Homo sapiens: one gene and its partners. The protein of the gene in region 3 purifies or fractionates together with the protein of the main gene of each other region. This does not show direct contact. Each region holds a gene or a part of one and is shown on either strand. Other genes may lie near its edges.

Evidence for each region.
Region 1: the proteins of ME2 (region 3) and TBCC fractionate together in Homo sapiens (co-fractionation; one large-scale study listed by BioGRID). This does not show direct contact.
Region 2: the proteins of ME2 (region 3) and ATIC purify together in Homo sapiens (co-immunoprecipitation; one large-scale study listed by IntAct). This does not show direct contact.

What each region holds. Positions count from the first base shown.
Region 1 is NC_000006.12:42,743,955-42,747,704, forward strand, and holds TBCC (tubulin-specific chaperone C), read right to left. Parts: upstream 2,150-3,750; 5' UTR 2,120-2,149; coding exon 1,079-2,119; 3' UTR 544-1,078; downstream 1-543. UniProt on the Homo sapiens protein: Tubulin-folding protein; involved in the final step of the tubulin folding pathway.
Region 2 is NC_000002.12:215,315,041-215,318,690, forward strand, and holds part of ATIC (bifunctional purine biosynthesis protein ATIC), read left to right. Parts: intron 1-3,116; coding exon 3,117-3,193; intron 3,194-3,650. UniProt on the Homo sapiens protein: Bifunctional enzyme that catalyzes the last two steps of purine biosynthesis.
Region 3 is NC_000018.10:50,877,611-50,881,360, reverse strand, and holds the start of ME2 (NAD-dependent malic enzyme, mitochondrial isoform 1 precursor), read right to left. Parts: upstream 2,244-3,750; 5' UTR 2,053-2,243; intron 1-2,052.

The DNA of each region.
Region 1 (3,750 bases), on a different chromosome or scaffold from region 3:
AAAAAAAAAAGAAACACGTAAAGAGTGATGGCTCTCCGAAGGAACTGAATGTCTAGGGACAAAGGAATTACCTATGGTTTTTTGTTTTTGAGACAGTGTCTCACTCTGCCACACAGGCTGGAGTGCAGTGGCGTGATGTCAGCTCACGACAACCTGTCTCCCAGGTTCAAGCAGTTCTCCTGAGTAGCTGGGACTACAGGTGTGAACTATCATGCCCGGCTAATTTTTGTGTTTTTAGTAGAGACGGGGTTTCACCTGGCACCGGGTCTCCAACTCTTGACCTCAAGTGATCTGCCCACCTCAGCCTCCCAAAGTGCTGGGATTGCAGGCGTGAGCCCCCGGGCTCAGCTCTGGAATTTATTAAATATGTATCTATACCCTGACACTGCTGGTTACTGTCTATAATCCGAGTGTTTTGGGAGGCTGAGGCAGGAGAATTGCTTGAGGTCAGGAGTTCGAAACCAGCCTGGGCAACATAAGGAGAGCCCATCTCTTTAAAAACAAAACACACACACACACACACACACCAAACAAACCCATGTATTTACTGCAGACCTACTTTATTATGCACCGTGATGTTTCAAGTATCACAAACCATTACAAAGCAATATAATCACCCTCCTTCCCCCTTACTGCTTCAAACTATTGTGGTAAAAATAAATAAATAAAGCCCTGGCGTGGTGGCTCACGCCTGTAATGCCAGCACTTTGGGAAGCTGAAGCGGGTGGATCACCTGAGGTCAGGAGTTCGAGAGCAGCCCGGACAACATGGCGAAACCCCGTCTCTACTAAAAATACAAGTTCGCGTGGTGGCGCGCGCCTGTAATCCCAGCGCGCCACCACGCTGGGGGACGGAGTAAGACTCAGTCTCAAAGGCATGACGAAAATAGCAAAAATGCTTTAGTGTTATACCTGTTACGAATTTAATGGAAATTACAAGTAGGAGCCCATTACAATCTCTAGCCTTAAAATGCTGAAAACATACACAGTGTGACAATAAGTAAACTTCGAGACCCAATAAGGGGGAAAGTCCAACGTGGAAAGTATTTGGTAGGAGTGAAGAACAGAGTGACAACTGCTTAGTCCCACTGGATATTTCGCTCCTCTTCAGGAAGAATACTCCAGTTTGGGGAGGCCATATCCCGGGCCAGCCAGTTAAAATCGTCAACATCGTTCCAGTTATTTTTGCTCCTATCTAAACCAGAGCTCTCGAAGTCCTTGTCGATCTCCGGGTAGCTCCAGGTGTAAGGGGCGAACTGGATCCCACTGCAGTCCTCCACGATGGCCCTGCTGGTCACCTGCAGGAAGATGCGGGTGTCTTTCGTACTGTGTATGCGGAGCTGTTGGCAGGCCACTGCCAGCACGCAGTCACTGCAGTCCTCCAGGAAAACAGAGGTAGACACCGGACCGCAGAGCAGCTTGCAGCTGTGGGCCTTGGTTAGCCGCAGGGTGTTGGGATTTCCATACAGTCTGACCGTGCAGTTGCTCAGTTCGGTCAAAAGAACGTCGCGCTGGTGCAACTCGCTGGCTCTCTTCTCCAAGACTTGGGACTCCAGGTTGGAGAAACCGCAGACCCAGCTGGGGCCGAGGTCTCCTTCCGCCTTCTTGGGCAGCGGGGAGTCCTGTATGCTTTCAACTGCCGGGGGGATGCCAGGAGCCGCGTCTACTTTGGTAGACGAAGCAGCATCCTTTCCCCGGGTCTTGAAAGCGAAACGCTTCTTGGGCTGCAGCCCCCGGCGCCGCTCGGCCAAGGCCGCCTGCAGCCGCGCCAGCGCCTCTTGTCCCTGCCGCAGGTCGTAAGCGGCTAGGAAAAAAACTGAGTCGTTGATTAGTTTCTGCAGCCCCTGGAGCCGAGAGGCCGCCTCCTCCAGCCGCTCGACCGACTCCGCGCGCTCCAGAAGCTCTTCCACGGCCGCTCGCTCCCGAACAAAGGTGGCGACGAAAAAGTGGCTGTTCTCCTTCTCTACCTCCTGGTTCTGCCGCTTTTGTTTCCGCCTTTCAACTTCCAGCTGCCGTTCTTGTTCGCGTCTCTGAAGCCGCTCAGGCACCAGGCTCAGGTCCCGCTGGGACTCCATGTCTCCGGTCCTGACAGCAGCAGCGGAGCAACTGACGGACTCCATATTGGCTTCAAGCTTCCTCTCTCTTGTCTTCCTTCCTCCGGGCGCGCTGTCCGTGAGGCCTCCCACCAACGCGTCCGGTGATTGGCCTAACATGATGATGTCAGATCCCCGGCCTTATTTTCTTCGCCTATTGGTTCCTCTGCGTCGGAGGGGGCGGGGAGATGGGGCGGGGCCGACTGACTATGGGGGTGGGAAGACAAAGGTTCTTGTGGATGGGTGGGGTGGGAGGCAGGCGGGGGAATCTTTTTTTTCCTCTTAAAGGGGCAGGACTTATATCCGGGATTGTGGGGTGAGTTGCAGCAGCGGCAGCTGCACATGTGGGTTTGTTTATAAGAACAAGGTTAGAAACTCGCAGGCCTCCCCCTCCCCCCAGCTCCTCCCTACTACCCCCTTACAGGCCGGAGATCCGCTACTAGGGGTGTGGGTGGGAGGGATGAGTGCGTGTGGTGGGTTGGGGGGACAGGTAGTGGTGAGAAAGATGGAGCGGGGGGGAATATTGCACCGCCTGGCCCGCGCCGGAGGAAGCAGCAGCTGGAACAGCTGGCTGGGGAGCCGCTTGCATGCCTCCGGTTTTTTCTTTTCCCTTCCACCACCCCTTCCCCCAACCCATTTCTGCCTCCCCGTAGCCCTCATCCTTACCGCCCCCCTCCCCCCTATCCACTGCAGTTCGGCGCGGCCTGGGGGCTCCTGGATCCCCGCAGGCAGTTACTAGGGCAGGAGAAGGCAAGGGGCACTGCGATGGGAGAGACTGGGTTCCTCACTGCAACCTGGTTCGAGGGGCCCTGGGGGAGTCCATAAAAGGATTACTATTTTTTTGGCCAATTGCTGCAGTCGGAGGGGTGGGGGCGGGGGAAGGTGAGATCCACACCCCCTTCCTCTTTCTTCCCTGCCCTCCCCGAGCTCGGTCCCGGCCACTCCCTCCGCAGCTGGGCGTCGCCGGCCGCGCTGGGGTGAGACCCTAGCCCCGGGCTCCGTGGCTCTCTGGGGCGGTCGGTCTTAGGAAAGCGGTGGGAGAAGCGGTACATTATTTCTAGGGGTGGTGGGAGGGATTTGTCACCGGAAGTGAATGGCCTAGCCTAAAGTCGGGACCAACCCGAGGTGTGGGTGGGCAGCCAAGACGGCGCAGTCACTGGCAAAAACCCGAGGCAGCGGGCAGGGCGAGAACCCGAGACGCAGCCGCTGCCCGGGCGCGGCAGCCTCGCATGCTTCGCTCAGATCTGCGGAGCTCCCGAACCTCTTTAACCCTGCCCGCCCTTCCAACCCTAGGTTTCCTCCTTATATCCCCAGTTCCCAGCCTCCATCGTTTAAATTGGGGTATTTAACGACCCAAGAAACTTGAAATTTCACCGATCTACCTGCATTTTGATGCAGAGAAAGATGGGAGGAAACGCGAACCATTGAATTAAATCTGAGTTAAAACTGATCTCCCATTTTCACGCCCCACTCTCTTCCTTTCCTTCCCACTTAAAACAAACAAAACACACATAAATTGCTGGGCCAGAGTATTTCTCCGCTGAGAGCACAGTTCATACCGTGTGGCAGATTCCCCGCGCAGGCGGGGCGCGGGGGCAGGGGAGAGGCTTGTGTGTCCGCGTGCCTGCGTGCACCCGATGGAAAAGGGGGTGCCGAAA
Region 2 (3,650 bases), on a different chromosome or scaffold from region 3:
TGGTGTATGCTAGTAGACTGAGGTGGAGAAAGCCAGGAAAGCCTGTCTGTCCAGATTCTTCTTGGCTTCTCTAAAATTCTTTCTCCACCCCCTAAGGATCTCCTGACCTACTAATGGGCAAGGAGATGAGAGGATTTCTTTACGTCCAGCTCCTAGACAGAAAGCCAGTGGAAAGTTAGAATCATAAGTTTAAATCTTATGACTGGCTTTGGGGAAAAAGAGTTTTAGTTTCTGTAAACTGCCCTGGGGAAGAGAAATTCTCATTTCTGTGACTTCAGGGAAGAATGAAGGGTGAGAGGCAAGAGGGCAGGAGAAAGCTATATATATATATTTTTTTAGAGGGTTTTACTCTGTCACCCAGGCTGGAGTGCAGTGGCACAATCATGGCTAATTGCAGCCTCGATCTCCCAGGCTGAGGCAATCCTTCCACCTCAGCCTCCTGAGTATCTGGGACTACAGCTGCACACCAGCATGCCCAACTAATTTTTGTATTTTTCATAGAGATGGTTTCACCATGTTGTCTGTCTGGTCTTGAACTCTAGGGCTTAAGCAATTTTGCCTGCCTTGGCCTCCCAAAGTGCTGGGATTACAAGTGTGATCCACCATGCCTGGACAAGGTCTTGGTTCTGGCTGGGCGCAGTGGCTCACCCCTGTAATCCCAGCACTTTGGGAGGCTGAGGCTGCTGGATCATCTGAGGTCAGGAGTTTGAGCCCAGCCTGGCCAACATGGTGCAACTCCATCTCTGCTAAAAATACAAAAAAGAATCAGCCGGGTGTGGTGGCGTGCACCTGTAATCCCAGCTACTCAGGAGGCTGAGGCAGGAGAATTGCTTGAACCCAGGAGGTGGAGGTTGCAGTGAGCCGAGATTCCACCACTACACTCCAGCCTGGATGACAGAGAGAAACACTGTCTCAAAAAAAAAAAAAAAGATCTTGGTTCTGAGGCTGCTTCTGAGCATATTTTTGGGTGTTGTTATCTGCAATAATTTTATCCCAGGAAGTTAACCATTACCTTGTCATGAGGTAAACTGATGGATTTTAATTAGTGAGTATACAGCAGTGAGCATACATAGAATTATTTCCCGAGACTACAGCCATTATGTATAAATTCTTCAGTTCAAAGGAGTAGCAAGCTTTTTAATTACCCCAAATGTTTAATTCTAGAAATAAATCCGCCTTCTCTAAGTTTTAAGTGACTGTCTTCATTTGGAGGAAATGGATTTTATTTCCTGAACCCCAGGAAAAGAAATTTTGAATTTGAAAACACTTATGTCACCAGTTTGTGGATGTTGGAACTGTGTGTGTCATTGGTCAAACACCAGTCATTTGCAAATGGCTCCCCTTAACAGGAGAATCTACCCAGGAAATTCCGTATCTTACTGGCAGAACTTGCTGCTTTAAAGTGTTTATTATAGTCTCAGCTACTTGGAGGATTACTTAATAAGCCCAGGAGTTCTAGGCTGCCATGGACTGTAATCTTGCCTGTGAATAATCACTGTACTCCAGGCTGGGCAACATAGTGAGATCCCATCTCAAAAACTATATATGTTGATTGTAGAAAATTCGAAAATATGGACAACTATAAAGAAGGTAGTAAAAATGGATTGTAATTCTTAACATGCTAGTATATTTTTCTTCAAGCATTTTTATAAGCATGTACTTTATTTCATAGCTTACACAGAAGATAGATGCAGTTTTGCTTCCTGCTTTATTTATTTTTATGTATTTATTTATTTTTTGAGACGGAGTTTTGCTGTTGTTGCCCAGGTTGAAATGCAGTGGCACAATCTTGGCTCACTGCAACCTCCGCCTCCCGGGTTCAAGCGATTCTCCTGCCTCAGCCTCCCAAGTAGCTGGGATTATAGGCATGCCCCACCATGCCTGGCTAATTTTGTATTTTTAGTAGAGGCGGGGTTTCACCATGTTGGTCAGGCTGGTCTGGAACTCCCTTACCTCAGGTGATCCATTCGCCTTGGCCTCCCAAAGTGCTGGGATTACAGGTGTGAGCCACCCCACCTGGCCCCTGCTTTATTTTTTCTTATATATTGTGGGCATTTTTACACACCATTACAACTTATAAAGTCTGCCAGAGTGTTCGTGGTTACGACTTTCTAGGGGTCTGCTTTGTGATATGGATTAATATTTACTGTCCTTCACTTGACCCTTTGTCACATTGTGTGATTATTTTTTCTAGTTTACTTTTTTTTCCCATGTAAAACTTTTTATTTAACATTTCTGTAATCAGAACTCTCAATCTTTTGTTTAAAACTTGGAAAGCATTCCTCACATATTTAATTTTGCTACATGCATGATTTTTTAAATGCTAAACCTTTGATTCATAAGGAATATATTTTTGTTTGGGTTTAACCCGTTATTCCAATAGCAACACCACTTTATTAAACAGTCTTTTATGTCTTCACTCACTTGATATGCCATCTTCATGTGTTGTTGTTGTTGTTTTTTGAGATGGAGTCTTGCTCTGTCGCCCAGGCTGGAGTGCAGTGGCATGATCTCGGCTCACTGCGACCTCCAACTCTTGGGTTCAAGTGATTCTCCTGCCTCAGCCTCCCCAGTAGCTGGGATTACAGGTGCCCGCCATCACGCTCGGCTAATTTTTTGTATTTTTTTAGTAGAGCTGGGGTTTCATCATGTTGGCCAGGCTGGTCTCAAACTCCCCTCCTCAGGTGATCCACCTGCCTCAGCCTTCCAAAGTGCTGGGTTTACAGCCATGAGCCACCGTGCCCGGCCAAGGATATTTTTAATGCTTTTTGTTACATACTGCCAAATTCTCAGTTGTATGTCTTAGTAATATTTAATGAGTATGGCTTATGATTCAGTTTCTAAATGCTCTGAAAATTATAAAACCAGTGCTGTAGTAGTTACCAATTATCCCTGAACATACACAACAGTTAGGAAATAAATTAAATAAACTTTTTTTCGGAAGTAAATAGAATTTTACTTAAGAAATAAAATATAGTGAAATACTTTAAAAAATCAGAATTTTCACGTTGAATTCAGGCTCAAAATCTCTTGAAATGAAAACAGTAGATGCTTTGAATAGTGAAAATTACAATTCAGCCACACCAGTAGTACCATTCTGTTTATCTGTTTTTCAGAGATGTCTCTGAGTTGACGGGATTTCCTGAAATGTTGGGGGGACGTGTGAAAACTTTGCATCCTGCAGTCCATGCTGGTAAGTGGTTGGTATCTTTAATGTAAAAACAGTCAGTGGTTTCCAGGAATATTTTAGTTGATAGCGTCCTAAAATAAAGGAAGAAAAAGGCTCAAGAGAAATTTACATATAAAGTTAATGTTATGAAGTTGCTGCCAGATTTCATAATACGTTAGAACTGGTTTAAAATCCAGCTTGTCTTACTACTTGATGAATTCAGATTGTTTTCCTCTGCTTGCTATTAGTCCTGACCTGATACCTAATTTAGAGTCTGGTGTTTCCTGCTCAAGTTGCTGAAGATATTTAGATTTCATCGTATGAAAATACTTTTAAAATAGTTCAAACTTAGAAGAAAGCATCACAGCGTAACTGACTTGCAAAGGAATTTTTTTTTTCAAAGTGCTTTACATTTGTTCGTTCACCTAAGAATGAATTGTATATAAACCGAAACGGCAAGAAACTGGTATCCTCCTAGTTT
Region 3 (3,750 bases):
TTGTGTTTTAAAATACGGCTAGTTCACCGGGCATGGTGGCTCACTCCTGTAATCCCAGCACTTTGGGAGGCCGAAGGAGGTGGAGCACTTGAGGTCAGCAGTTCGAGACCAGCCTGAAAAACATGGTGAAACCCTGTCTCTACTCAAAATACACACACACACAAATTAGCCGGGCATGGTGGTGCATGCCTGTAGTCCCAGCTACTCAGAAGGCTGAGGCAGAAGAAGCGCTTGAACGCGGAAGGCAGAAGTTGCAGTGAGTGGAGATCGCAACACTGCACTCCAGCCTGGGCAACAAGAGCAAAACTCCGTCTTAAAGAGAATAAAATATGTCTAGTTTGTCTGAAATTCACCAAAATCAATTAGAGTTTTTAACTTAATATACAGATTATACATACATAGCTGTAAGTTTTTAATTTTACAAAAGAAGTTCCCAAATGGTAAATGGGTTTTTTCCTTTATGAATATTTTGTTTTCATAAATATATTAAAAGACAAAAACATATAAACACCCTCTAAGGGTGTCACCCATAAGCAGTTCTCAGAAATAGCTACTAAGCATAAATATATTATTCTCAAGAGAATATTTCTACAGAAGCATAGCCCAACATTTCCTATTAATGCATGATAAAAGTCATATTAGGAGCTAGGCGCGGTCGCTAACGCCTGTAATCCCAGCACTTTGGAAGGTCAAGGTGGGTAGATCACTTGAGGTCAGGAGTTCGAGACCAGCCTGGCCAATACGGCGAAGCCCCCGTCTCTATTAAAATTACAAAAATTAGCTGCCCTCAGGTGATCCACCCACGTCGGCCTCCCAGAAGTGCTGGAATTACATGCGTGAGCCACCGCGAACGGCCTATATGTATGTTTTTAAAAACAACTGTTTCTCTCATCTAATTTACAGAGTATTTGTAAATTGAAAATCAAAATTATGGGTACAACATCGCAATTAGCTTAACAACATGAGCAATGCTTAAGGAGTATACACGTTTAAGGGAGTGGGGGTGGAGGATGCAGCTATGAAGTTAGACCACTTGAGTTTGAATCTAGGCTTTGTCACGTTAAAACTGTGGTCTTAGGCAAGTTACTTAACCTACCTAAACCTTAGTTTCCTGGTTTGTAAAGTGGAGGCAGTAACAGTATCAACCTCAAAGGGTTATTTTGAGATAATCCGTGTAGAAACTAGCGCTCTGCCTGTCACTAGCAATTAATACATGCTACTATTGTTATCGTTATCAACTGCAACACTAACAGAAATAGCAATGCTATTAACCTCTTTGCTTAGAGGTGATAGCCACAAGCATCAGGAAGGTAAATCCACAGACAGAAGATGATAAAACGTTTTGTAAGAAAGCACGTGTTAATTTGATCACGCTTCTCACCACAAGCAACGTAAATTTTCTAGAATTATCTCTGGAACCAAAAAAGAAAGTCGAAACCTAGGACCACCTAGGTAACACCACATGCAGAGATAGTTATCGCCAGCGTGAAAGAAACACCTGCCAATCCCGGTCCACAGATGGCATTTAATAATAGACGGAATCGGTCCAATCTCAGAACTCTCCAGCCCGCAGCAAGTCTTTTTTTAAAGGGAGGAGCCACACACACAGCCTAACTCCTGCCGTTAACTCGGCCCGACTGAATAAAGGAGATAGGCTTGCCAAAGGGTTTCCAGCCACAGAAGTCCTTTTGTGGAGGGGTGCAGAAAGAGCGAGAAAGAGATGCTGGCGTTTGGAGGCCCAGGGCCTCGCTCCCGGGCGAGAGCGGGGCGCCCAGGCACCAGCCGGCGGAGGAACCTGGAAATCGCGCGCCGGGTAGAGCCGCGGCCGCTGGAACCTGGGTCGCCGCGATGTAGCCGGTCCCTCGCCCTCAGCCCGGACTCCGCAGACCGCTTCCCTTCCCCCAGCCCCCACCGCCAGGCCGGGAACGGCGGGGGCCGCACGCGCGGAGGCCGGAGGCGCGGCAGCGCTGGGCTCTCGGGGCCGGGCCAGGGGAGGCCGGCGCCCGCTCCTCTCCCGGACCCCCGCCCGGGCCCCACCGCGCCGGGCCTTACCAGAGGTCTCGCGCCGCGACAGGTGGTACACCCGGCGGAGAGGCCGCGCCCTGCCGCCCGCCCTGGCGATGCTCAGCTCCCGCGCCGCCCGGCCCTCCCCTTCTGCGAGCCTCCCGGAGCCGCCGTCAGCTCAGGCTCACACTGGCGCGGGCGGCCCCACACGCAGAGGCGGCCCGAAGAGCGGCCGAGAGAGGGGAGGGCGCGAGGAGCCGGCCAGCCGCGGGGCCCGGAAGGCGTGGCCCACGGTGGAGACGGACGGGCTCGCGGGCCAATTGGAGGCAGGAACCGGCCGGAGGGGCGGGCTCCGTCTGGAGGCTTAGCTGCCGGCGCTGGGGTTCCTGTCCTCCGCGCCTTCCTCAACCCAGCTCCTGGAGGTTACGGTTCTGAGGCGGGGCGGGCGGCCTCGTGGACGCGATGCTGAGGATGTGAGAAGTGCAGTGCGGAGGAGGAGGTGGAGCTCCGCCGCTCCATGAAGGAAGCCGGGGCTGGCCGACCGCGCCCCCCAGCACTCCTGGCCCGGGGGTCCCAGTCTCCGAACCCGCGGAGGCCAGGGAAGCTGGGAGTTGGGGTCTGTCCTGCCTGAGCCACAGAGGAAGGGGGAGAACGGGAGGGCAGGAGACGGCAAAGGAAGGAAGAAGAGGACCCAGGAAATGCGAGGCTTCCGCACTTCAGCGACGCTTTCACTTTCCGAGCTGTTTTGTGTGCTTAGGACTTGCTCTTCTGCAGAATTCTTTGCCACTCCTCATGGCTGCTGGCAAGGTTATTGGCCTGCGGTGAATTTACCAATCACCTCCACTGTCACAGTCACCATAAATAGATGCTCAATGTTCTGCCTCAGAAAAGCACCGGAACACTTAATTGTCTTGTCCTTGAAAGCCGCAGGGACCGTGCCTTCCAACATCCCTACCCCCGCCCTCCCAACGGTTGTGACATGGGAGGATATTTCTTCACCCTTATTTCAGAAAATGTTATCACCCAAAACTCTTTACTATAATGAGCTTGTGTACTCTTAAAACAAGGCATGGTAATGACAATTTCAAAAATAAGATGTAAAATATAAAAAAAGAGGCAAGGCAGAATAAAATTAAAAGTGATGGAAATGTAGGATTGAGAAGATGGAGTGGAAGTAGGGAAGAGTGAATTGCTCCCTCCTAAACTCTGACAATTAAATAAAATCTGGGGCAATCGCCCCTCTCTGAACATTGAAGGGTGGGGCCTGTGAGGAGGAAACTCCAGTTAGGTGATAATCCATAGGTGTGGTTGCTATAATAACCACCGCAGGCAAGGAGAGGTTATAAATATGAATGACCTAAAGTAACTCTGCTTGCCAGGAACTTACAAGATGCAGCAGGTTGGATGAAGGAAACTAAACATTACCAGTGTCTTTCTACATAAATGCTTCATTAGTAGAGGTGAAATTCTTTTGTCTTTGAAAGACAGTTGTGGGGGTGTTGGGGGGTAGATGGGGAATGGGGAGATGTTGGTCAAAGGGTAAAAAGTTTCAGGAGTAAGTTTTAGAAATATCGCACAGCATGGTGACTATAGTTCATAATGTATATTTCGCAATGGCTGAAAGAGTAGATTTAAAATATTCTCACCAAAAAGAAATAAGCATGTAAGGTGATGGATATATTAGCCTAATTTGATCATTCCACAATGTATTGAAACATTACATTGTATCCCATTGCATTAAAGTAT